Homo sapiens: one gene and its partners. The protein of the gene in region 1 purifies or fractionates together with the protein of each later gene. This does not show direct contact. Each region holds a gene or a part of one and is shown on either strand. Other genes may lie near its edges. The genes, in order: KCNK16, RMDN3, EMC8, NPLOC4, DNAJC16, LSR and GRAMD1A.

Region 1 (4,284 bases):
ACTCACTGGGGTGCACTTCACCTGCCAGAGCTCCCAGGAACCAGGCTGAGGCTGGGACTGTGGTGCCTTGTTTGGCTTTCTCCTCAGCCTGGCCCTCTTGCCCACTGTCTTATGGGTCTTCAGTGACTTCACTGCTCTCAGGGGCTGAGACAGAGGGGAGCAAGATTAGCACTATGACTTAGACCAATTATGCTCAATTACCTGGGGTTAACACTTACAAAGCCGGGGTTCTGCTAGCTGGGGAGGAGGGAAAGGATACTCAGCAGGCAACTCACAGTGTCTGCAGCCACAGCTCATTAAAGGAAACAGCAGAAAACACAGCAGAGATATTGGAATCCTCGCCCTGGGCTAGTGAGAATATAAAATGGTTCAGCCACTTTGGAAAATAGCCTGGCAGTTCCTCAAAAAGTTCAATACAGAGTGGCCAGATAGTCCAGAAATTCTACTCCTAGGTATGTACCTGTGAGTAATGCAAACACATGTCCACAAAAAAAACTCATACACAGAGGTTCATAGCTGCTTTGTTCTTAATAGAAGGAAACAGGGACAACCCAAATGTCCATCAACTAGAAATCAAATGGATAAACAAATGTGTTATAGCCACACAATGAAATATTACTCAGCCAGAAAGAAGGAAGAAGTACTGTTACATGTTGCAACAGGGCTGGATCTTGAAGACCCTGTGAATATACTAAAACCCACTGAATTGCACACTTTAAATGTGTGGACGATACAGCATGTGAATTATATCTGTATAAAGCTGTTATACATGTACATAAACAAGCATGTGTACACACACACACACAGGCAAAGAGAAAGGAAAGCACTCTCAATTCCATCCACTCAGAGACAGCCCCTCTTACCATCCCAGGATCAGGATATACTTATAGTTTCTTTTTAATTCACACATATATTTCACCGACATATCCTCTGAAGGTAACCCACTAGAGGGCTTCATGCAAGACAAATTAGCAAGAGTTATAAAACCAATGAATCCAACTTATCAGCAGAATCAACCCTGATACTCTTACCATCAGGCTGAGTGAGACAATCACCTGTCTATTTACTTTGCCCTGATTTGTCACGCAGTTTACTCATCCTGAGGTTCCCCCAATAGGCAGTTCAATTATCCTGCCCCATTTTGTAGCCAAGGCAACTGAGTAGAAGGTTTATTCATACCCATTCTGACCTCTTCCCAGCTCCTAAGCTGGGGTCTTACAGCCTTCAAGGGTGAAGACGCTGGGGGCGGCCGAGAGAGCCCACTGGGGCCTGGACAGAGTGAGCACACCTATCCGATTTAGCCCAGAAACATCTATCCAACTTGGAGACAGAGAGAGAGACATGAAGCACTCAGGAGAACCTGGTAGGTCTCTTTGAAGGGTCCCTGACACTGACTTGCTGCTGTCCATGGAAACAAAGGCCGGGTGGGGGTGGCCGGCCTGTTTGCACTCACAGCATAGCACTTAGTGCAGCCAAGCTGAGCCGCACTGTTCAAACAGTCTCCCCAGCCTCCAGACACCTGTGCCGAGGAGGAGGGCAGGGCAGGCGGCAGCCTGGGCACAGGCCCCTAGGTGCTTACTCCTCACCTGTTTCCCACCTCTCCCCCATAGCCAGCCCCACGGCCCTGGCAGGGTCCTGGCCACAGCATGCCCAGTGCTGGGCTCTGCAGCTGCTGGGGTGGCCGGGTGCTGCCCCTGCTGCTGGCCTATGTCTGCTACCTGCTGCTCGGTGCCACTATCTTCCAGCTGCTAGAGAGGCAGGCGGAGGCTCAGTCCAGGGACCAGTTTCAGTTGGAGAAGCTGCGCTTCCTGGAGAACTACACCTGCCTGGACCAGTGGGCCATGGAGCAGTTTGTGCAGGTGAAGGGGAGCGATGTGGGATTGGGATGGAGAGGCTTGGGAAGGTTGGTGGAATGGGGTTCCTGTGGCAGATCCACAGTCCTCACCCAGGAGCTGATGCCCCATTTGGAAGAAGAGTGTGGTGGGAACAGAGAGCCTGGTGAGATCTAATCCTGGATTCTGGCCCCAGGTCTACAACTGGATTGATGTGTGACCTTGAACAGGTCACTTAACCTCTCTGGACCCAAACAGCCTCATCTATAAGGCAACAAGAATAACCATATCGGTACTGCAGACATTTGACAGCAGATTAAAAGCACTCTCTAAGCTGTCACTTGCTGGATGAATGGGAACTATATGTCAGCGTTATCAACGCTATCCAAATTTCCTCCTCCCACACTTTCATACTTCCCCTTCCCCAACTCCAGGGCTGCAGCTCCTTCTGCCCTCTCCCAGCTCATATCCCTGGGCAGACGGCTGCGGGTGGGAGACACAGATAAATGCCAGGAGCAGCCACCACCAAGCTGTCCTTTCCTGGCCTGTTTGCACCTGGAGTTGGGTTTGGTGGGCAATGGCCAAGGTGACTGAGCTTGCCAGCACTGCACCCAAATGGGGCTCTCTCTTGGTAACAGAGTGGGTCACCCCCTGCCTGGGTCCTTTCTGGTTTCCTCTTTCCCAGAAACAAGACAAAACCAGGTGTTGTGGAGGGAGGTGAATGCATCTGAAATAGGCACTGGAGCGAGTGACAACATCCCCTGCAAAGGAACAGACCAAGTGCCAAATCACCTTGATAACTGGCATTTACTGAGCATTCACAATGTGCCTAAAACAGTGGGAAGCAGGGTGGTCATGACCAGCTTAATCCAATCATGATCCACTCATCACCTGACACTGAGCGTGTTACAGGTGTTTTCTCATAATTACCTATTACAATCCCTATCTCCACTTTGTAGATGGGAACTGAGGTAGAATATGTTGACCAAGGCTGCACAGCTACTGGTAGAGACAGCATTCACTCCCAGGCCTCTGGCTCTGGAGCCCCGGGTCTTCACCACACAAATTAGCATAAGTGCTGGGGGCAGGATGCAACCTGAAGCAGCAGTTCTCAAAGTGTAGTCCCGGGACCAGAATCAGCATCACCTGGGAGCCTGTTAGAACTGGAGATGTCAAGCCCCACTCCGCACCTGCCGACTCAGGAACTCTAGGGATGGGTCCTGCAGGCTGTGTGTCAACAGGCTCTCCAGGTGATGTTGAGGACCCTGAAGACTGAGAACAGCTGGCCTAGAAGATGATGCGTGGGCTGGGTGGTCACAGACAACATTCTGTAGCTGTGAGAGACCAGGAAGTGAGGCCTCCAGCTTCAGGTTTTACTCTCTTCTCCCTGATGGATAAGGTTAGTCAAAGTTGGGGGACCATAGTACCACATCAGGGTTGAGAACAGTTCAGGGGCCTCCCAAAACCCTGGGAGTAAGGCAGAGGCCCTGGAGAAGCTGAAATCTCCTCCCTCAGCTCTGCATTGGAGGTGAGAGCCAAGCTGGAGGGCGTGGGAAGGGTTGGTAGCTGCAACCTAACTCGCTCTGCTAACCAAGACGAAAGGAGGCCATCCGCTTGATTGCAGCCCCGAAGGGATTGCCACTGATTAGCCCCTGGGGCCTCCCCAGGGAAGACAGGACATCCCTTTCCCTGAGAGTCCTCAGCCTCAGGAGAGACCCTTCCTTGCCAGGGGCAGTTGAGCTGGGTGGCAGAAGAACACTGGGGTGAGATTCTGGAAGAAGACACATTCCTGTTGAACTCTCAGACGCACAGGGCGAGTTGAGTAACTAGTATTAAAAGCAGTATTAAACATTGCCTCTGTGACGAAACACTGCTTGCCCAGGTTCACAAAACTGGGAAGTCAGAACCCATGGCCACCTGCATCCGCCCACCGGCACTCAGCACCCTCAGCAGGATGAGGGCTGCAGGCTGGCAGTGGGGGATGGCCCAGGACTAGAGTACTGCCCCCAGAAGTGAGGGTCTCCAGAGAACGAGCATGTTCGGGAATGTTGGGCCCTGGCCACTTTGTGGATGTGGGAAAGAAAGGGAGGCCAAAGTCCACATCTTAAGAGGCCAGTTCCCGTCAAAGTGAGGAGAAGCAGACAGCCTGTGACCGCAGATGCCCTGACTGGCTTGGCCCACCAGGGCCACCCCAGCCCTGATCTAAGCACACCCACCCAGCCAGCGGGAACTGGTTCCCATAGGAATTGGAAGCCAGAACTGTTGTGTCCCTGGCTTCCTCCTGCCTTTGGGGCTCTTCGGTGGCAAGGCTGTGCTGCTGCTCTGAGACAGTCCACAATTAAAGAGGAGAGGGTTGGGGCAGGGGAGGAGAGAGCCCTGCCTATTCTCCAAGGCGGCTGGGCCCAGGGACTGGAGGTTGTCAGCAGTGGGGCAGCGAAGGGAGGTGTTGTAG
Region 2 (3,500 bases), on another chromosome or scaffold:
CAACAGCCAATGCGGAGTCTGACAATGAGCGGGACTCTGACAAAGAAAGTGAGGACGGGGAAGATGAAGTGAGCTGTGAGACTGTGAAGATGGGGAGAAAGGATTCTCTTGACTTGGAGGAAGAGGCAGCTTCAGGTGCCTCCAGTGCCCTGGAGGCTGGAGGTTCCTCAGGCTTGGAGGATGTGCTGCCCCTCCTGCAGCAGGCCGACGAGCTGCACAGGGGTGATGAGCAAGGCAAGCGGGAGGGCTTCCAGCTGCTGCTCAACAACAAGCTGGTGGTGAGGCTCCAGCTGCCTGTCTCCTTCTCCTTCCCTCCCTCCCTCCATCTCTCTGTTCCTGACCCCTGGGGAATGAAGGCCCGTGTGGTTACTGCCCCTACAAGGTGACATGGGACGAGAAATGGTGAGACAGCTGGTTTTGCATCTGTCCCCCAGGTCACATATCCTCTTCCAAGGAGGCCCAGCGTGGATCCTAGGGCCAGTGTACTGCTTGCCCCAGAGCTGCCTCCCCTCTTGGGAGGGGGAGTGTAGTTCTCTGCTTTCTGTAGAGCTACTGCAGAAAGAGCTCTACCTCTCACCTCTAGGGGGAAATGTGGAAAGAACTGTATTTTTTTTTTCTCCTCATTTCCCTTGAGGCAGAGTCCAAGCTGCCAGCCCCATTACAAGCGACAACTGTGTAGGTCACTCAACCATAATTCTCTTGTCAGGTTCACTGACAGAATATATGCCCACCCAGGTATAAATGCCCCCCCCCCAGAAGTTAGAAGTTTCCCTTTTCCTTTCACACTTTCTTCATGTGTCAGCAAAAGACCTCTCGTGCCTTATGACATCTTGGAGTTGACCTTTCCTCCCAGCAGTTCTAGGAGGTCAGAATGCCCTCACCCCGTAATTGTGCAAGCTACTGGCTAGACAGAGAATGTGTCATACATTAACTGCACGTGGGAAGGGATGACTGGGGGGAAGGCTGCGTGTAGGAGCTGGCCTGATATTGATGACTGTAACATACTAGCTTGGAAATTCAAACCTAGGGTGTGGGGGAAGGCCAAGGCCCCCATTCTCCACAGTTGAGGAAAAAGGGGCCTCACCCGTTTCTGTCTGGTCTGCAGTATGGAAGCCGGCAGGACTTTCTCTGGCGCCTGGCCCGAGCCTACAGTGACATGTGTGAGCTCACTGAGGAGGTGAGCGAGAAGAAGTCATATGCCCTAGATGGTAAGTGCTGACAGCTTCCTGTGGGAAGGTGACTGACTGATTCAGGGGTGGGGCTGGCCCATCTGCCTGGGGACCCGGGGAACCACCAAGATGCTGTCAGCAGTTGTGGCTCAGTTACCCACTAGGGACAAACTCTGGCTCCCAAAGACCCTTGCTTTCTCCTCTGGAAGAAGAGAGCAGTCTTTGCTTATCTGTATATCATGCTGATTAGTAACACACGTGCATGTGTTTCTAGGAGTAGTTGTATCCTATCAATGTTATTCGTTTTTCTCACTCTAGCCACAGAGGGCAAAACCTTTTTTCTTAACCTGAGGTTTTTTGCTGCTGCTTAGAAATCTGGTTTCAGTTTTCTGAGCTGGTGGGGCAGGTGTTCTAAGAATATAGCTAGCTTAGAAGACTCTGGAATCCACTTGGCAAGTCTGTTGGCAAAGGCTCCACCCTGGAGGATAGGGTGCATCTGACCTGTGCCAGGCTCAGGGCTTGGCCTTATCTGTCATGAGGTCAGAGAATGCTTGGACTTTAGAGACTGATGTGTCCTGCTGAACTCCACACACTGAGTCAGGTACCATCAATGGGTAATGGGTTTCTAGGTCTGTGGTTCAGTTAATATCTATTTTTTTTTTTTTTTTAAACAGTCTTTCTCTGTTGCCCAGGCTGGAGTTCAGTGGCCTGATCTCGGCTGACTGCAACCTCCACCTCCTGGGCTCAAGCAATTCTCCTGCCTCAGCCTCCCCAGTAGCTGGGATTACAAGCACATGCCATCATACCCGACTAAGTCTTGTATTTTTAGCAGAGATGGGGTTTCGCCATGTTGGCTAGGCTGGTCTTGAACTCCTGGCCTCAACTGATTCACCCACCTAGGCCTCCCAAAGTGCTGGGATAACAGGCATAAACCACTGTGCCTGGCCAGTTAACTGTCTAAAATGGATTTGTCTACCTTTCTATTGTAAGTACAGCCTTACAAATATTATTGAATCCTTGATAATGTATACTCAAACAGTACCTCAAAGTTAACATTCTAAACATTTGTAGAATTCTGTCAATGGAGAAAGAACAGACCAATTGAGTAGGATGTCTCTGTAGACCCTCAGAAAAATTCCTGGAAGTTTTAACAAAAGATGCTTATTTATGATTACTTTTTCTCTCCAAAAGTTTGTTTTCCCTCCTAAATTTCAGATGAGGATTCTCAGCTTTTGGGCTGATTTTTGGACTCTTCATGTCAACAACCTTTCCTTTCCCTCTTGATCATTGGTCATCTCTTATTAGTGCTAGTAGCCAGCATGAACCCCAAAGACAGAAGTGGAGGCAGTGGTTAGCAGGGCAGCACTTGGTTGGTCTGGCCTCCTGAGCTTAGCACCCATGGACAAAGCTTTACCTGCTGGAGGTCAGATGACTATGGAATGTCTTTGAAGGTTCTGCTCTGAGATCACAGCCTTTAAGAATTATCCTTACTGGGTATAAAGTTTATTTCATTGTATCTCTAGGAGCTGGACCACCAGGAGGCAGTCATTCTGTGGGGTCTCAGGCAATGTCTTGTCTACAACACTGTCTGTCTAGCTTGGCAGGAACTAGTTGTCTCATTCTTTGCTATTATTTTCCTAGTGAGACAGTACTTTGAAGAGGGCAGAGAGAAATCCCCAAAGAGGCAGCGTCCCTCATTGGTGGGGCCATGTGGTCCCTCTCTTTGGGAAGAGAGGTAGAGTCTTTCACAGCATCAGTTGTCTTAAGAATGCATTTGTGGCCAGGTGTGGTGGCTCATGCCTATAATCCTAGCACTTTGGGAGGCCAAGGCAGGAGGATTGCTTGAGCCCAGGAGTTAGAGACTAGCCTGGGCAATATAGTGAGACCTTGTCTCTACAAAAAAAAAAAAAAAAACTTAAAAAATTAGCCAGGCATGGTGGTGGAACATGCCAGCAGGAGGATTGTTTCAGCCCAGGAGGCAGAGGTTGTAGTGAACTGAGATTGCACCACTGCACTCCAGCCTGGGCAACAGAGAGAGACCCTGTCTCAAATAAAAAAAGGAAAACATTTCAGATTAGCCAGTTTACCACCTCAATGCATTACATTTGTTCCATTTTCTCCATGTTCCCTTCCAAACTTGTTTTCTTCAAAGAATTCTTGGCTGGGCACGGTGGTTCGCACCTGTAATCACAGCACTTTGGGAGGCTGAGGTGGGCGCATCACCTGAGGTCAGGAGTTTGAGACCAGCCTGGCCAACAAGGCAAAACTGTCTCTACTAAAAATACAAAAATTAGCCAGGTGTGGTGGCACACACCTGTAATCCCAGCTACT
Region 3 (3,500 bases), on another chromosome or scaffold:
CTGTTCTAACGTAGTGTTTATAACTTTTATGAATTTCCTAAACTTTAGGTCATTCCATCAAGTTTTATTATATGATTCATTGTTGGCCAGTGTTTTGCTTCATAGTTAGCATTTGATATGAGTAGGTTTCGGTGCCCGGCAGAGAGCCCTGGCCTGAGGCAGACACTCAGGAGGAAGCTTTTAGATACACATTGTAAGATGGCACCTACACGCTGGCCCGACATGGTGCTGTTGAGGGTGAGCAGAGTGGTCTGCCTTCAGGGTGCCTGCAGTTTCAGTTGGCAGCTGGCTCTTCCTAGGAACAAGGAGTTCCTGACTAGCAGGAACCACAGCGTGGCAGTCTTCATTCAGGATCAAGTGGATCAGTATTGGAGATTCAGTGCCTAAGACAGAGAAATGCAAAGTTGGCAGCTGTTTCAAATACTTTGACAGTTCATTAACTACACATTTTTTTTTTGGCGGGGCGGTGGCAGAGCAGACAGAGTCTCACTCTGTCACCCAGGCTGGAGTGCAGTGGCACGATCTCGCCTCAATGCAACCTCCACCTCCTGGGTTCAAAGTATTCTGCTGTCTCAGGCTCCTGAGTAGCTGGAATTACAGGCACCTGCCACCACACCTGGCTAATTTTTGTATTTTTAGTAGAGACGGGGTTTCACCGTGTTGGCCAGGCTGGTCTCGAACTGCTGACCTCAAGTGATCCACCCACCTTAACCTCCCAAAGTGCTGGGATTACAGGCATGAGCCACCACACCCGGCCAACTACAAATTTTTAGACTTCTTTTAAAATAATAAATTTTAGGCCAGCCATGTTGGATCACACCTGTAATCCCAGCACTTTCAGAGGCCAAGGCAGGAGGATTTCTTGAGCCAGGTGTTCAAGACCAGTCTGGGCAACATAGCAAGACCTCATCTCTACAAAAAAATACAAAAATTAGCTGGACATGGTGGCCTACGCCTGTGGTCCCAGCTACAAGGGAGGCTGGGGTGGGAGATCACTTGAGCCTGGGCAGTTGGGGCTGCAGTGAGCCATGATCTCGCCACTGTACTCCAGCCTGGGCAACAGAGCAAGACCCCATCTCAAAAATCAGTGAATAGAAAGACAGATGTTAAGAGTTCTTGAGCATCTGCAATGGTAGTTTTTCTTTTTAATGAGTGTTTCCTTACCCTCTCCCCAATAAAAATCAACAACCAGCATGATCAGTGTTAAGTAGGAGGGTAAGGGCTTTGCAAGCTCTTCATGGCAAGCGGCCCTGCCTTTTGCTTTCCAAGTTCCTCAGCAAATGCAGGAGCAGGCAGAGGTGGGTACATGGGCAGGCCTCCTGAGGGCTCTGTACCCACTCTTCACCACTTGCCGTTAGTGCTGTGGGGACCTGGCGCCCACCGAGTCCTGGTCAGTGCAGTGAAGCACTGCCTTCCCTCTGCGCTAGGAGCCACCATCGCACTGCTTTCTTCAGTACGATTGGCTTCTACCTGAAAACCTCCCCTTCCCTCTTAAGTCATATTTTTCTTAACACAGTCACATTTTTAAGTCATATTTTTCTTAATACTGCAGATTTATAATCAGTACATCACTTTGTCAATTTTGAAAACGAAAATACAATAATCATATAAAATAATTTGTTTTTTAAAAACATTATTAATTTTTTTTAGCCTAATCACAAGGGAAGGATTGTAATTGTATATAGTGTGCTTTGTTAAATAACTCACAATAATGCATGTATTTTTATGGCTGTTAAAAGAAAGATGGGGCCAGGCGCGGTGGCTCACGCCTATATTCCCAGCACTTTGGGAGGCCATCGCGGGCAGATCACGAGGTCAGGAGATCGAGACCATCCTGGCTAACACGGTGAAACCCCATCTCTACTAAAAATACAAAAAATTAGCTGGGCGTGGTGGCGGGCGCCTGTAGTCCCAGCTACTTGGGAGGCTGAGGCAGGAGAATGGCGTGAACCCGGGAGGCAGAGCTTGCAGTGAGCCGAGATCGCGCCACTGCACTCCAGCCTAGGCGACAGAGTGAGACTCCATCTCAAAAAAAGAAAAAAAAAGAAAGATGGATGGCTTGGTCCCTGCCACAAAAAGCTGAAAGCCTTGATTGTGCAGGGCAGACAGGATGCACAGAAGGAAAGCAGCACGTGCCATGGACTCTGTGTTAGAGCCTCTTAGAAATAAATCCTCAGAACTCCAGCAGGGCAGGGGGTCTCATCCAGGGTTTAGCAGGGCTTTGTGGTGAGGGTGGCATGTCTTCTGGGCACTGAAAGAGGGGAAGCAATTCAGTAAGGAGGCCTTGGTGTGGAGGGCCAGACGGGACAGTGTGAGTGAAACAAGACGGGCATGTGAGGCAGATGACATGTAGGCAGATTTCCTGACATTGAAGACACAGCATTGCCCCTGTGGCTGCACACGGTAGCTCAGTTCACCGTAACGAAGGCCTGCCTCTGCCAGCCTGAGAATAGCAGCCTTCATCTTGCAGGCAGTGGTGAGCAGTAGTCTGTGGGGCTGTGAGCACCAGGGGACGTGATGGAAGTTCTGTTTTAGGAAAATTTAGTTCAGGAGAATTTTCAGGTTACATCGGATAAGAAGAGCCTAAGCTGAGCTTCGTAGCACGTGCCTGTGGTCCCAGCTGCTTGTGAGGCTGAGCAGGAAGGATTGATTGAGACCCGGAGTTTGTGGCCATGATCACACCTGTGAATAGCCACCATGCTCCAGCCTGGGCAACGAAGCGAGACTCTGTCTCTTTTTTTTTTGACGTGGAGTCTCACTGTTGCCCAGGCTGGAGTACAGTGGCATGATCTCAGCTCACTGCCACCCCCGCCTCCCGGGTTCAAGCGATTCTCCTGCCTCAGCCTCCGGAGTAGCTGGGTCTACAGATGTGCATCACCACACCCAGCTAGTTTTTATATTTTTAGTAGAGACAGGGTTTCACCATGTTGGCCAGGCTGGTCTCGAACTCCTGACCTCATCAGGTGATCCACCTGCCTCGGCCTCCGAAAGTGCAGGGATTACAGGCGTGAGCCACTGCACCCAGCCGACCCTGTCTCTTTAAAAAAGAGAGCGAGCGAGTGACCGTAGAAATTATGAGACCGGTTAGGAAGCAGTTTTAGAAGCCCCTGCCTAAGGTGAGAGACTGAAGGAAATAAATGACAGGGAGAATGCAGGAAAGGAGGGCAGAGAAAGGACCTGTGGCCTGCAGGGTGGGGAAGAGCAGAGGGAAAGGTGGCCTCAGGTCGGAGAGGCTGGAAATGGACTGGCCTGCCTGAGAGTGGTGGGTTCCCGCTGGGAGGCTTTTGAGGGGGTAGCAGTCTTGGGGCCATCAGGCAGTGGTCAGGAGACTTCCGGAGTGCTGCTCTGCAAGGGAATGGGTTAGATGGCAGATTGCACAGAGCTGTGGTGAGGACATGGAGCAAGACTAGCGGCTTGTTAAAGAAGTTGAAGAAACAGTCATGGAAGGGAGGAGGGAAGCTGGACAGCAGCTAGAGGGAACCGGTTCAATGCTTTTGTTT
Region 4 (3,500 bases), on another chromosome or scaffold:
TCCACCTCAAAATATGTTCCCATAAAAAATTTTGAAGCATTTGGGTACAAAGAGACTGGAAAGGTATTGGGGGAGTTGGGGGCCTCACACCAAGTCTTTACTGTGATGTCCCCTGGAGATGCTGATTCCCGTGCAGAGTGGGGTGTTAATCAGCAGCTGCAGGGGAGGGAGGAGGGAAGGGGCAGGTGGTTGTGTGTGCGCATCCATGTGAGGTGAGTGCTGTGTCTCTCATTTCATAGCGGTTGGATGATTTTGACCTGCCACACTAGTGTGCGCTCTCCATCCCTGCAGCAAGCATTTCACTTGCAGAAGATGCTGTGCCTTGGAATATTCCCTCCTCACCTGGGGCTATATGAAGTGCTTATGCATATGTACATTGTTTATTTTAGATTTTTTGCAATTCCTTTTAAATAAACCAGTGAGAAGGATCTGAGTTTATACTTGGCCATGTGAAATTGTCTGAGCGAAGGTTGTCTCTGCAGTGGGGTCTTTTTTAAAATGCATCACTCTGTAGATGTGACGGGGTGCTGACTTTGCGGTATTGGGATTCCAAATGCTGCATTAGCAACTTTTATGTCTTAGATCAGAGAGCCATAAATGGTGCTCTCCTGCCATTGGCATGGAGCCACTTTGTAGCCATAGCCATTAGCCGGCATGCCTCTTCCATTTGTGTCTCCTCCCAGGGGCCTGGCACTGGCTTGCTTGCATGATCTGTGTCTTCATGGCTTCATTAGCAGCTTTTGAGAGCGTGTGTGTGTGAGAGAATTCTGAGCCATCATCACTTAGATCCTGCCTATTAGGAAGCACAGAGGCCACCTCTGTTCCGCAGCACAGGGCTCATACGCATGTAAGAATTCTGACCCCACTTAGAAAGGGGTCTGACTGAGCCCCGGAGGGACGGCCGCCGGCGCCCTCGTAAACCAGCATACCTCTCCTTCAGATTGTGCGTGTTGTGCTCCCAAGGCTTCTGTGACTGAAAATGTTAGAAAGCCGTGGGACAAGGTTTTTTCATTGTTGTTATTTCCCAAAATGCATATGAAGTAGGTATTTTCCAAACTTGGATTATTTATGCACCGCTCTCAGGCCCTTTGCCATGTTCACGTACCAGCTTTGTTATTATTTATTTAACACTTTTCTTTTTTTTTTTTTTTTTGAGATGGACTCTCGCTCTGTCACCCAGGCTGGAGTGCAGTGGCGCGACGTCCGCTCACTGCCAGCTGCGTCCCCCCGGTTCACGCCATTCTCCTGCCTCAGCCTCCCAAGTAGCTGGGACTACAGGCGCCCGCCACCACGCCTGGCTAATTTTTTTGTATTTTTAGTAAAGACGGGGTTTCACCGTGTTTGCCAGGATGGTCTCTATCTCCTGACTTGTGATCCACCCGCCTCGGCCTCCCAAAGTGCTGGGATTACAGGGCGCAAGCCACCACACCTGGCCTATTTAACACTTTTCTTTAAATGGACTTGGCCAGGCGCAGTTGCTCACACCTGTAATCCCAGCACTTTGGGAGGCTGAGGCAGGTGGATCACCTGAGGTCAGGAGTTTGAGACCAGCCTGACCAATATGGTGAAATCCCGTCTCTACTAAAAATACAAAAATTAGCCAGGCATGGTGGTGTGCACCTGTAGTCCCAGCTACTTGGGAGGCTGAGACAGGAGAATCGCTTGAAACGAGGAGGCGGAGGTTGCATGGAGCCGAGATCATACCTCTGCACTCCAGCCTGGGTGACAGAGTGAAACTCCGTCTCAGAAAAAAAGAAAACAAAAAAAAAACTATTTTATTTATTTATTTATTTGAGTGGAATTTCACTCTCGTCTCCCAGGCTGGAGTGCAGTGGCACAATCTCAGCTCATCGCAACCTTTGCCTCCCAGGTTCAAGCAATTCTCCTGCCTCAGCCTCCCTGGTTCCTGGCATTACAGGTGCTTGCCACCACGTCCGGCTAATTTTTGTATTTTTAGTAGAGATGGGGTTTCACCATGTTGGCCAGGCTTGTCTTTAACTCCTGACCTCAGGTGATCCACCCATCTCAGCCTCCCAAAGTGTTGGGATTAGAGGTGTGAGCCACTGCCTTTGGCCAATAAACTACTTACATTGACTTTGAGTTCATTCACTTTTATCTTTGGTTTGTGTCATTTTTTTTTTTTTTTTTTTTTTTGAGACGGAGTCTCGCTCTGTCGCCCAGGCCGGACTGCGGACTGCAGTGGCGCAATCTCGGCTCACTGCAAGCTCCGCTTCCCGGGTTCACGCCATTCTCCTGCCTCAGCCTCCCGAGTAGCTGGGACTACAGGCGCCCGCCACCGCGCCCGGCTAATTTTTTGTATTTTTAGTAGAGACGGGGTTTCACCTTGTTAGCCAGGATGGTCTCGATCTCCTGACCTCATGATCCACCCGCCTCGGCCTCCCAAAGTGCTGGGATTACAGGCGTGAGCCACCGCGCCCGGCCTGGTTTGTGTCATTTTAAGCAGTGGATACCCATGAAGTCACAGGTTTGATGTGCGGGTCAGTTTTTTCTAATTCATATCAACATAAGTAGTAAACTTCTGGGTGTGGTGGTGTACACCTGGAGTCCCAGATACTCGGGGAGGCTGAGGTGGGAGTGCTTGAGCCCAGGAGGTGAAGGCTGCAGGGAGCCACGATCACCACTGCACTCCAGCCTGGGCGATAGAGTGAGAGCCTGTCTTTAAACAAAACAAAACAACAATTAAAATATAAATGTTTATCCATGTGCCATCTGGAATATAACTCCACGTGGGCAGGGAAACACTCTGTTAAAGTAGGACGTGCATGTGAGACAGCAGCAGCGGAACACAGACATCCTCACTGCTCTGCCTTTTTCTGCCTTGTACTCTCCTCAGATGCCGCCACGGCCCTTTGGGGAAATGCGTGCACTGCGTCCCTCTAGAGGTGAGAGTCTCTGCGGAGTAAGTTCTGGGCCAGTGTGGGGGGCTGCGGGTAGACAGCTGTCTTAAGTGCTTGCCCTGAGTCCACGCACTTGGCTGTAGTGAGTGGTTCAAAGAACTTACCTATTTATTGCCCTGGGCCTCATATTCCCCTAGTGCAAGCTGCACACAGGACGAGCCTTTATTTATGGGAGTGACCTTCTCGCTGGATTATGAATGGCTGAAGCATTTGTGTGGCTGTGATAAAGGGGCAGCATTTACAGCGGGCTCCCTGGACAATCCTTTTCCGATCTGACACAAAGCTGAGCCTGTCGGCCTCCGTGCTTATCATTGTTGATTTACTTTGCCTTGAATCTCACATCTCTTCTACTGGTTTGTCCTGGTGAGACTGAGAGTTACCGTAATAATGCCGACTGGAACTGTTAATGCTGGGTTTACAGCAGGAAGGCCAGCCCGATTTTCTTCATGAGGCATCTCTTGCCTCATCTTGTGGCATTTCTTTTTGCACAATTTTCCTGAAACTCATTTGACTTAGAGCGTTTTGTGTTTAATAGAGATTCATTTTAATCTTGAAAAGATAACTGGCACACAAAGAAAAACT
Region 5 (3,500 bases), on another chromosome or scaffold:
ATGTTGGCCAGGCTGCTCTCGAACTCCTGACCTTGTGACCCACCTGCCTCAGCCTCCCAAATTGCTGGGATTACAGGCATGAGCCACTGTGATGGGCTTTTTTTTTTTTTTCGGAGACCAAGTCTCACTCTGTTGCCCATGCTGGAGTGCAGTGGTGTGATCTAGACTCACTGCAACCTCCGCCTACCGGGTTCAAGCAATTCTTTCACCTCTGCCTCCAGAGTAGCTGGGACTGCAGGCACACACCACCACGCTCGGCTAATTTTTGTGTTTTAGTGGAGATGGGGTTTCACCATGTTGGCCAGGCTGGTCTTGCACTCCTGACCTCAAGTGATCCGCCCACCTCGGCCTCCCAAAGTGCTGGGATTAAAGGCATGAGCCACCACGCCTGGCCACTATCCCTGTTTGCATAGAGCAAGATACTGAGGCTTAGAGCAGTCATATAACCCACCCAAGTTCTCACTACAGCATGGTGAGCGCGATTCCCACTGACTTCAGACCTGCCCTGTGAATGATTCCCCCACTACACTCCCAGCCTACCTACACTCCCCACTACCTCTCATGTCACTGTGACATGAGACGGAGAGGAAGGTGTTATCAGTGGCATGGTCACTGCCATCTTACCTAATTACGGTACAGGTAATCCCCAAACTCATGCCTCCTGACCAGTACAGATTTCAAGAAGATCGTTATTTTGCTTTAGCTATGAAAAAGAAGAGAGTTGTTTGTATTTACTTTGTTGGTACAGTTTTTGCACATGGAACACCATAGAATGGAAGTATACAAGGATACGGAAGACCTAGTGGAGCTGTGTAAGCTGGCATGTACCTCTCTGCTCAGTGATGTGAAAAAGCCCTACTTGATTTGTCATTTACATCTTTGCTGTAGTTTTATTTTCTTCCTCTCTATTATGCCCTAACAGTTGACTGCCTTTGCATACAAAGATTATTTATCATTTGGATATGTATATGTGGGTTTGAGAGGGACGGAAGAGATGACAAGGCGGTACAACATCAATATCTACGCCCCTACCCTCTTGGTCTTTAAAGAACATATAAACAGGCCTGCCGATGTTATCCAGGTACGTGAGGGTCACCTTGGTTAAGATTTTCTTCACATTTTATCCCAAGATTTTATGTAAATAAACAGCAAAATTGAACAAAGTGGCTGAAGGAAAGGATCTTCCTTCAGATGCACAAAATTTTTTAATGAATTTTTTTATCTAACTTGGTACCGTTTGCTTTAAAATTTTTAATTTAAAACGTTTAAAAATTTTAGCACCTTTAAAGGGCTCCTGTTGGAAAACCAACAATCTTTTTCCAAAATGAATTTAAAAGTTAAATGTAAAACAGTAATAAAAAGGAATAAGAAGAAGCCACAAACTAACTGAGAGAATGTACAGATGAATATTTATCTGATCTTAAGGTAGGAAAGGGTTAAAAAGCATTGGGGAAAAATCTTGGAAAATCTTGATAACTTGACTCTAAATTTTATGTTTTTATGTAAATACTTTAAAATGTAAAGTTAAAAAACTGGGGGAATATTTATAACAAATATTAAAATGTTGATATTTTTAATTTCTAAAGAGCTTTTAATCAAGAAAATCATAAAATTCTGAGAAGACTAATAACCATTTTTAAAAATTAAATCTCACAAGTAATCAGAGAACATTAACCTTTTTTCACCCATCCAACTGTCAAAGATTTTCTAAGTTAAAATAGTACTGTTGAGGGTATAGAGAAACAAGTACTATCTTGCTAGAGGCAGTCCACTCTAATGGCAGCTCAGGTGTCCTGTGAACACAGAAGGGTACCTGAAACCATGGAAACCAGATGGGAAAGTGGACCGTAAAGAAAGAAGAGCAGGTTTAGAAAGATAAGAACTTTGGCTGTGGACATACTGAATTAGAGCTGCCTGTAGGAAATAGAAGGGGAGAAGTCCTTTCTACAGTTGGGTATAGGAATCGAGATCTTAAGAAAAGCATACAGGCTGGGGATAGAAACTGGTGTATCATCAGTAAATGGTTAGTGGTTGAAGTCCTGAGTAGGGTAAGATCTTCCCGGCATAATACCGTAGTCTCCCCTGATCCACCCCACTTACCCCTTTTTCAGTTTCTGAGGTTTCAGTTACCCACAGTCAACCAGGTCCAAAACATAGGTGACTACAGTGCAAGAAGATATTTTGAAGCCGGGCGTGGTGGCTCACGCCTGTAATCCCAGCACTTTGGGAGGCCGAGGCGGGCAGATCACGAGGTCAGGAGATTGAGACCATCCTGGCCAACGTGGTGAAACCCCGTCTCTACTAAAAATACAAAAAATTAGCCGGGCGTGGTGGTGGGCCCCTGTAGTCCCAGCTACTCGGGAGGCTGGGGCAGGAGAATGGCGTGAACCCAGGAGGCGGAGCTTGCAGTGAGCTGAGATCACGCCGCCCACTGCACTCCAGCCTGGGCGACAGAGCAAGACTCCGTCTCAAAAAAAAAAAAAAAAAAAAAGATGTTTTGAGCGAGGGGGACCATGTTCACATCACTTTATTACAGTATATTGTTAGAATTGTTCTATTTAAATATTGTTGTTGTTAATCTCTTGCTGTGCCTAATTGATAAACTTTATCATAGGTATGTGTATAGGAAAAAAACATAGTTTGTATAGAGTTCAGTACTATGTGGTTTCAGGCACCTACTGGGGGTCTTGGAACGTATCCTCTGCAGTTAGGGGATGACTGCTGTATGTAAAGTAAGGCCAAGGAGGCCAAGGACAAAACTCAGAACAGCCACCGGCACACAAGACAAGGGGGTGCCTGATGGAGACGAGAAGGTGCTGCAAGTCAGGAAGAAAACAAATACCAGTGTCCGAATAGAAAAGAGAAGATAATCTCAATCCAGGGTAAATGGATGAGGATTTCCTAAATTGGTCTTTCGGAACAGTTTATAGTTCTGAGAATTATATTTATTTATCCCACTGGGGAAAATTGTAAATCAAATACATTTACAAAATTATTGGTAGAATGGCTGCTTTACCAGCTTGCTCTTTGTGGATATCAAGTGTATGCTTAACAAACTCAGTTTTCACAACAGCAGGTGGCTTAATGATCACTAGTAGCACCAGTGGTTTCCTGTTGCTCTAGGTAATTTGTTGTCATTGCTATATGGTATTTATGGCCATTATAATTTATTGAATCATTCTTCCGTTGGTGGACATTGGGGGCTTTGAGGAATAGTGTTGCAATGAATATCATAACCTAAGTACAGAGTTCTCTAGGACAGCAGTTTTCAGAATGTGGTTGATAGACTCCTGGGGATTCTCAAAGATCCTTCAAGAGAAAGTCTGTGAGATCATATCAAGACACGATTTGCCTTTTTCACTGTGTTGACATTTACACTGATAGTACCAAAGCAGTAGTGGGTGAAGCTGCCAGTGCCAGTGCATGAATCCAGGCAGGGCACCAGGCCACCTACCATCATTGTGTGCTTCACCCCCAATCACTCGCAGCAAAAACAAACC
Region 6 (3,500 bases), on another chromosome or scaffold:
TTTTTTGTATTTTTAGTAGAGACGGGGTTTCACCGTTTTAGCCGGGATGGTCTCGATCTCCTGACCTCGTGATCCGCCCGCCTCGGCCTCCCAAAGTGCTGGGATTACAGGCGTGAGCCACCGCGCCCGGCCCCTTGTTCTTAACTGTAATGCTGCCTCCTGATAGGATGTGCCTGTTGGGACTAAGTAAGGGGCAGTCATTCATTCATTCATTTGGTATTTATCAAGCATCGACTATGTGTCGTTGGTGCTGGGGATAGAGGTGATTGGGATGGCTGAAGTTTCTGTCGTCAAGGAGATGACATTCTGGTGGAGTGAGACTGGCAGTAAATAAGCAGATAAAGAAAGAGTATGAGAATTTCAAAGTCTGGGCACGGTGGCTCACGTCTGTAATCTCAGCACTTTGGGAGGCCAAGGTGGGTGGATCACCTGAGGTCAGGAGTTCCAGACCAGCCTGGCCAACATGGTGAAACCCCGTCTCTACTAAAAATACAAAGATTAGCCAGGCATGGTGGCACATGCCTGTAATCCCAGCTACTCAGGAGGCTGAGGCATGAGAATCGCTTGAACCCAGGAGGCAGAGGTTGCAGTGAGCTGAGATCGCACCACTGTACTGCAGTCTGGGCGACAGAGTGAGACTCTGTCTCAAAAAAAAAAAAAAAAAAAAAGACTCCGTCAAGGTATAAGAATGTCAGAGAGTACTAAGTGTTGCAAAGAAAATAACACCAGGCTGGGTGCATTGGCTCATGCCTGTAAATTTCAGCACTTTGGGAGGCCAAGGCAGGAGGATCACTTGAGCCTAGGAGTTTGAGACCAGCCTGGACAACAAAATGAGACCCCATGTCTACAAAAATTTTAAAAATTTAAAAATTAGCTGGGCATGGTGGCATGTGCCTGTGGTCCCGGCTGCTCAGGAGGCTGAGGTGGGAGGATTGCTTGGGCTTGAGAGGTCAAGGCTTCAGTGAGTCATGATCGTGCCACTGCATTCCAGCCTGGGTGACAGAGTGAGACCCTGTCTTGAAATGAAAAGAAAATAGGCTGGGCGCAGTGGCTCACACCTGTAATCCCAGCACTTTGGGAGGCCGAGGTGGGTGGATCACCTGAGGTCAGGAGATCGAGACCAGCCTGGCCAACATGGTGAAATCCCATCTCTACTAAAAATACAAAATTTAGCCGGGCGTGGTGGTGGGCGCCTGTAATCCCAGCTACTCGGGAGGCTGAGGCAGGAGAATCGCTTGAACCTGGGAGGCGAAGGTTGCGGTGCGCCAAGATTGCGCCACTGCACTCTAGCCTGGGAAACAGTGAGACTCCGTCTTAAAAAAAAAAGAAAAAAGAAAATAGCACTGGGTGATGTGCTACATGGAATGACTTGGGCTGTGAATATGATTTGAGGAGGGCCTGGGCCTGGGCCTTACAGAACCTAGAAGGCAGAGAGGAAGGGGAGGGGCAGGGTGCCAGGGATGAAGGCTCACGTACCTCATGTCTTAGTGTGTGTTCACTGTCTTAAACAAGAATTTAAAGTTGGGCATGGGGCAGAGCGGGGAAGGGAGCATCCCTTTGCAGACCCCAAGAAGCCAGGAACTGGAGCACATTCTGCTAGAGGATCGATGGGAAGCAGGGTTCCAGGGGCTGAGCCTATGTCAGTCCTGTTTCAGAGGAGGCACCAGGCTTGCTTGCCCTGAATTTCTGTGGGCAGCTCAGCCATGAGCATCCTACTGTTATTGAGGTCACAGGGCTGCTTAGGCCCCCTCCTCTCTAACCCAGGGATTGTGCCTGCCTGGACCAGGCGTGACTGCTAAGCTTCTGCCAGGACAAGCCAAATACTGAGGGTGCTTCCTCTGCTGGACGCAAAAGTCCAGGATGACCCCCCAGGCTCTGTCTCGGGGAAGGGGCCCTGCATGCTCCAGGGGCCTCACAGGCCTGGGTCTTTCAAACCACCCCCACCTGGGCCTGTGTTTGATCAAGGCCCTGAGTGTAAACATCCATTGTGTGTGTCCTTTCAGGAAATCCCATAGCCATAGGAGCTTCCTCTGTTTCAGCTTTGAGGATGGGGAAAAGTGGACTCCCCGTGGTGTTCCTAGGGTCACCCACTGTGCTGGGGTTTTTCTGTTGTTGTTGTTTTTTTTCTGTTGCCCAGGCTGGAGTGCAGTGGTGCAATCTCAGCTCACTGCAACCTCTGCCTCGCAAGTTCAAGTGATTCTCCCGCCTCAGCCTCCTGAGTAGCTGGGATTACAGGTGCACACCACCACACCTGGCTAATTTTTGTATCTTTTTGGTAGAGATGGGATTTCGCCATGTTGGCCAGGCTGGTCTCAAACTCCTGACCTCAGGTGATCTGCCTGCCTTGGCCTCCCAAAGTTCTGGGATTACAGATGTGAGCCACCATGCCCGGCCTATCCTGGTTTCAAAAGTGAAAATAGTCCTGGATAAGGTAGAAGGCTGTCCACTCCAGGCATCCCTCCGGTCCGGTGGCTCATTCCCTGCTTTGTCCTTCCATGCTTTGGGTGATGGACCAGCACCTGGACAGGAGGCCCTGTTCCACCTCCTCGGGCTCCTTGGGGTCCAAGTGCCCCCACCTCCAGCTGCACTGCAGCAGAGAGCCCATGGGACCTCTGAAATCATGAAGGTCACCTTTGCGGTGTATAAAGAAGGAACCAGAGGTTGGAGATGTGGAGGAGGCCTGGCTGCTGTTCCCACTGGAGACCTGGCATCTTCTCCCCGACCTAAAACAATGAAAGCAGTGCTCAGCCCGGATGAGATCACGGCCAGCCCAAGACCAGGAACAGGGTACGCCCTGCAGGAAGAAGGTGTGCCCAGACCTTAGGATGGATCAAAAGAAGCCGGAAAACTATATTTTTTGTGAGTTTTGAAAATGTCAGACAGGTCAAACAAAACACAGTGAGGTCCAGCCTCGGCCTACAAGATGCCAGATTTCAACCCCTGGCCTATATGATCTGTTTGCCATGGCAGGCGGTTCCTGTCCACCTCTTTTGTTTATAGCAGGGACCAGCTCTTGAGCTCCAGTGTTGAAGAGGCACGGTCAGGGTCTGATCTGAAGACACTGGTGGCTCATGCCTGTAATCCCAGCACTTCAGGAGGCCGAGGCAGGAGGATTGCTTGAGGACAGGAGCTGGGAGACCAGCCTGGGCAACACAGTGAGACCCAGAGACTACAAAAAAATAAATTTAGCGGGGCATGATGGCACACCCTGCTACTCTGGAGATGGGAAGATTGCTTGAGCCTAGGAGTTCGAAGCTGCAGTGACCCATGATCGCACCACTGCACTCCAGCCTGGGCGACCAAGCTAGGCCCTCTCAAAAAAGATACAGGTGGAAAAATGATGGACGAAGAGGGCATTGTGGCAAACCTGGGGATTTAGGAGAACCTAGTTTGGAATTCTATGAGGATTCAATGAAAGAATGTGTGTAGAGGGGCCCAGCACATAGTAAGAGCTCAATAAACGGTGGGGGCTAGGGGCGGTGGCTCATGCCTGTAATCCC
Region 7 (2,647 bases), on another chromosome or scaffold:
AACCAAAGTGTCGTCTGGGATGGCACCATGAGCAACTCCTGGGAACTCGTTATAAAGGCAGAATCCCAGCCCTGCCCCAGACCTACTGAACCAGAAATTTGGAGGGAGGGGCCCACAGTCTGTTTTTCATCAAGCTCTCCAGGAGATTCGAATGCAGCTCAAGTTTGAGAACCACTGCCTTCTAACAACCCTGAGAGACAGCTACTGCCATTCTACCCATTGCACAGGAAAGCTCACTGGAGCTCCAGGGGGCTGACCTGCTGCATTTACACCACTGCTAGGAAGCAGGATTTGAACTCCAGCTACCACGGTCTGTCCCCGGAGTTCCTGCGTTGACCTCAGATGATGTAAAGCTTGTGTAAGATGCTGCGGGAATTCCAGATCGTTTCAGTGACTATGGCCCCAGAACACAGACAGAGGTCCCCTCCCCACCATGGCAGGATCTGAGTGCAACAGGAGGCTCCCACCCACTCCCAGGGCCCCACAGGCACAGCCACAGCCACTTCTGACCCTTTATTGGGGCACTGTCGGCCCCAAATAAATATAATACATTAAACCCAGAGCTGAGGGAATCGTGCACCCCAGGAGGCGCCCCCCACAACCTCAGCCGGGCAAAATAAGTTAGTGGGGGGCCTGCCAGAGGCCGGGCCAGCTCCCTGGTCTAAAGTGCATCTCGGTTCCGTGGTCCCCACGTCTGCACAGCCCCTGGTTGGGCCGTCGGGAGGGGCGGGTGGGAGATGCCTGGCGCTCACACCGTGCCAGCAGTGGCCGCCGAGGCTCTGTGTGTCCATCTGTCCATGTGGGGGAACAGCTGCGTGGCCGGGGTCCTCAGGAAAAGCTGTCATCGGGCCGGGGCTGGGTGTCAAAGGGAGGGTCTGAGACTGTGATGCCTTGGTGCAGCTTCTCCAGCGAGAACTTCATCTGCGGGGAGGAGGTGAGCAGGGTCGGGGGTGAACGCTGGAGGCTGGGGGGTGATGTCGCCCACCCCCACCTTGCCATTGAGAAACTGAGGACGGTCTAGAGGCCATACTGCCCCACCCCAGGGTCCCTTGGTGAAAAGAGCACAGCCATGCTGCACCCAGTTTAACTTCTCAGAGGCAGCAGAGGAAGGGGCTTAGTGTGTGCCTGTGACCCCGATGGCCTAGGTTCAAATCCTGGCTCTGCTGCTTGTTACCTCAGTTAACCTCAGGCAAGTCCCGTAACCACCCTGAGCCAAAATCCCCTCATTTGAAATACGGGTCTATAACACATCTGCTCCACAGGATTATTTCAGGGTTCTGAAGAGCACTGAGAACCTGGTGTACACTAAGTGCTCAGCACATGTTAGCTGTCACCATTACCCACTCTGTGACCTCGGGCAAGCTCCTGAGCTCCTCGAACCTCTGGATGCCTCATATCGCCTACCTATGTATAAAACCGGGATAACGGCCGGGCACAGTGCCTCATGCGTGTAATCTCAGCACTTTGGGAGGCTGAGACCGGTGGATCACTTAAGGTCAGGAGTTCAAGACCAGCCTGGCCAACATGGTGAAAGCCCGTCTCTACTAAAAATACAAAAATTAGCCAGGCGTGGTGGCGGGTGCCTGTAATCCCAGCTACCTGGGAAGCTGAGGCACGAGAATCGCTTTAACCTGGAAGGCAGAGGTCGCACCACTGCACGCCAGCCTGGGTGACAGATCGAGACTGTCTCAAAAAAACTGGGATAACAAGAGCATCTTCTCAAAGGCTGGCTGTGGGGATAAAGCAGTCATGCTTAAAACCTAGAACAGCCCAGCTGCAGGTAAGTGCTCAGTCTACATCTACTGTGAGCACCAATCTGTGACGTCAACTCTGCACCCTTAGCAGTTTGACAGAGAGGAAAATGATAAAAATTTAACTCAGGGCCAGGCGTGGTGGATCACACCTGCAATCCCAGGACTTTGGGAGGCCGAGGCGGGAGGATTGCCTGAGGCCAGGAGTTTGAGACCAGCCTGGGCAACATGGTGAGACTCTGGTCTCTACAAAAAATTTTAAAATTGGCCAGGTGTGGTGGTGCCTGCCTATAGTCCCAGCTACTCAGGATGCTGAGGCAGGAGGATCACTTGAGTCAGGAGTTCGAGGCAGCGATGAGCCATGATCGTGCCACTGCACTCCAGCCTGGGCAACAGAATGAGATCCTGTCTCAAAAGAATAAAATAAAATAACGCAGGATGGGGGGCCCTGCCTACCCTCTCTATGAGTGATGGGGCCTCAGCCTTCATCTCCTCCCCACCCCATCCTGCCCCGCCCTTTCCAGTGTGAGCCTCTCCCAAGCTTGATTTCGGGGGGCAATGAGACCCCTAAAGATGAGCCTTCTGATATGGAAGGGTCCAATGAGACAAGATTTTCACCGTCACCCACAACTTCAGCTCTGATGGCCTTGGAAATGCAGGCAATGCCAGACTCTGTTTCCCATCCGCTTTCCCCCTCGACACCTTCCCCGAGTGCCTAACACTTGCTCTGACCCACCACAACTGCTGGCCTGACACTTGCTCTGACCCACCGCAACTGCTGGCCTGACACTTGCTCTGACCCACCGCAACTGCTGGCCTGAGTCTACTGGGGCCTGAGGGAATTGTCGTGTGATGACATCACATTTATTGGGCATCTGCTTTGTCCCTGGCACTAG

What was found.
Region 2: the proteins of KCNK16 (region 1) and RMDN3 purify together in Homo sapiens (co-immunoprecipitation; 2 studies listed by BioGRID and IntAct, with this or other methods). This does not show direct contact.
Region 3: the proteins of KCNK16 (region 1) and EMC8 purify together in Homo sapiens (affinity purification with mass spectrometry; 2 studies listed by BioGRID and IntAct, with this or other methods). This does not show direct contact.
Region 4: the proteins of KCNK16 (region 1) and NPLOC4 purify together in Homo sapiens (affinity purification with mass spectrometry; 3 studies listed by BioGRID and IntAct, with this or other methods). This does not show direct contact.
Region 5: the proteins of KCNK16 (region 1) and DNAJC16 purify together in Homo sapiens (co-immunoprecipitation; 2 studies listed by BioGRID and IntAct, with this or other methods). This does not show direct contact.
Region 6: the proteins of KCNK16 (region 1) and LSR purify together in Homo sapiens (affinity purification with mass spectrometry; 2 studies listed by BioGRID and IntAct, with this or other methods). This does not show direct contact.
Region 7: the proteins of KCNK16 (region 1) and GRAMD1A purify together in Homo sapiens (affinity purification with mass spectrometry; 3 studies listed by BioGRID and IntAct, with this or other methods). This does not show direct contact.

Annotation. Positions count from the first base shown.
Region 1 is NC_000006.12:39,319,903-39,324,186, reverse strand, and holds the start of KCNK16 (potassium channel subfamily K member 16), read left to right. Parts: upstream 1-1,484; 5' UTR 1,485-1,646; coding exon 1,647-1,859; intron 1,860-4,284. UniProt on the Homo sapiens protein: K(+) channel that conducts voltage-dependent outward rectifying currents upon membrane depolarization. Voltage sensing is coupled to K(+) electrochemical gradient in an 'ion flux gating' mode where outward but not inward ion flow opens the gate.
Region 2 is NC_000015.10:40,741,755-40,745,254, reverse strand, and holds part of RMDN3 (regulator of microtubule dynamics protein 3), read left to right. Parts: coding exon 1-278; intron 279-1,027; coding exon of another isoform or gene 1,028-1,105; coding exon 1,106-1,208; intron 1,209-3,500.
Region 3 is NC_000016.10:85,782,545-85,786,044, reverse strand, and holds part of EMC8 (ER membrane protein complex subunit 8), read left to right. Parts: intron 1-3,500. UniProt on the Homo sapiens protein: Part of the endoplasmic reticulum membrane protein complex (EMC) that enables the energy-independent insertion into endoplasmic reticulum membranes of newly synthesized membrane proteins.
Region 4 is NC_000017.11:81,609,613-81,613,112, reverse strand, and holds part of NPLOC4 (nuclear protein localization protein 4 homolog), read left to right. Parts: intron 1-2,854; coding exon 2,855-2,903; intron 2,904-3,500. UniProt on the Homo sapiens protein: The ternary complex containing UFD1, VCP and NPLOC4 binds ubiquitinated proteins and is necessary for the export of misfolded proteins from the ER to the cytoplasm, where they are degraded by the proteasome.
Region 5 is NC_000001.11:15,547,348-15,550,847, forward strand, and holds part of DNAJC16 (dnaJ homolog subfamily C member 16 isoform 1 precursor), read left to right. Parts: intron 1-922; coding exon 923-1,081; intron 1,082-3,500. UniProt on the Homo sapiens protein: Plays an important role in regulating the size of autophagosomes during the formation process.
Region 6 is NC_000019.10:35,252,002-35,255,501, forward strand, and holds part of LSR (lipolysis-stimulated lipoprotein receptor isoform 2 precursor), read left to right. Parts: intron 1-3,500. UniProt on the Homo sapiens protein: Probable role in the clearance of triglyceride-rich lipoprotein from blood. Binds chylomicrons, LDL and VLDL in presence of free fatty acids and allows their subsequent uptake in the cells.
Region 7 is NC_000019.10:35,024,323-35,026,969, reverse strand, and holds the end of GRAMD1A (protein Aster-A), read right to left. Parts: intron 922-2,647; coding exon 829-921; 3' UTR 501-828; downstream 1-500. UniProt on the Homo sapiens protein: Cholesterol transporter that mediates non-vesicular transport of cholesterol from the plasma membrane (PM) to the endoplasmic reticulum (ER).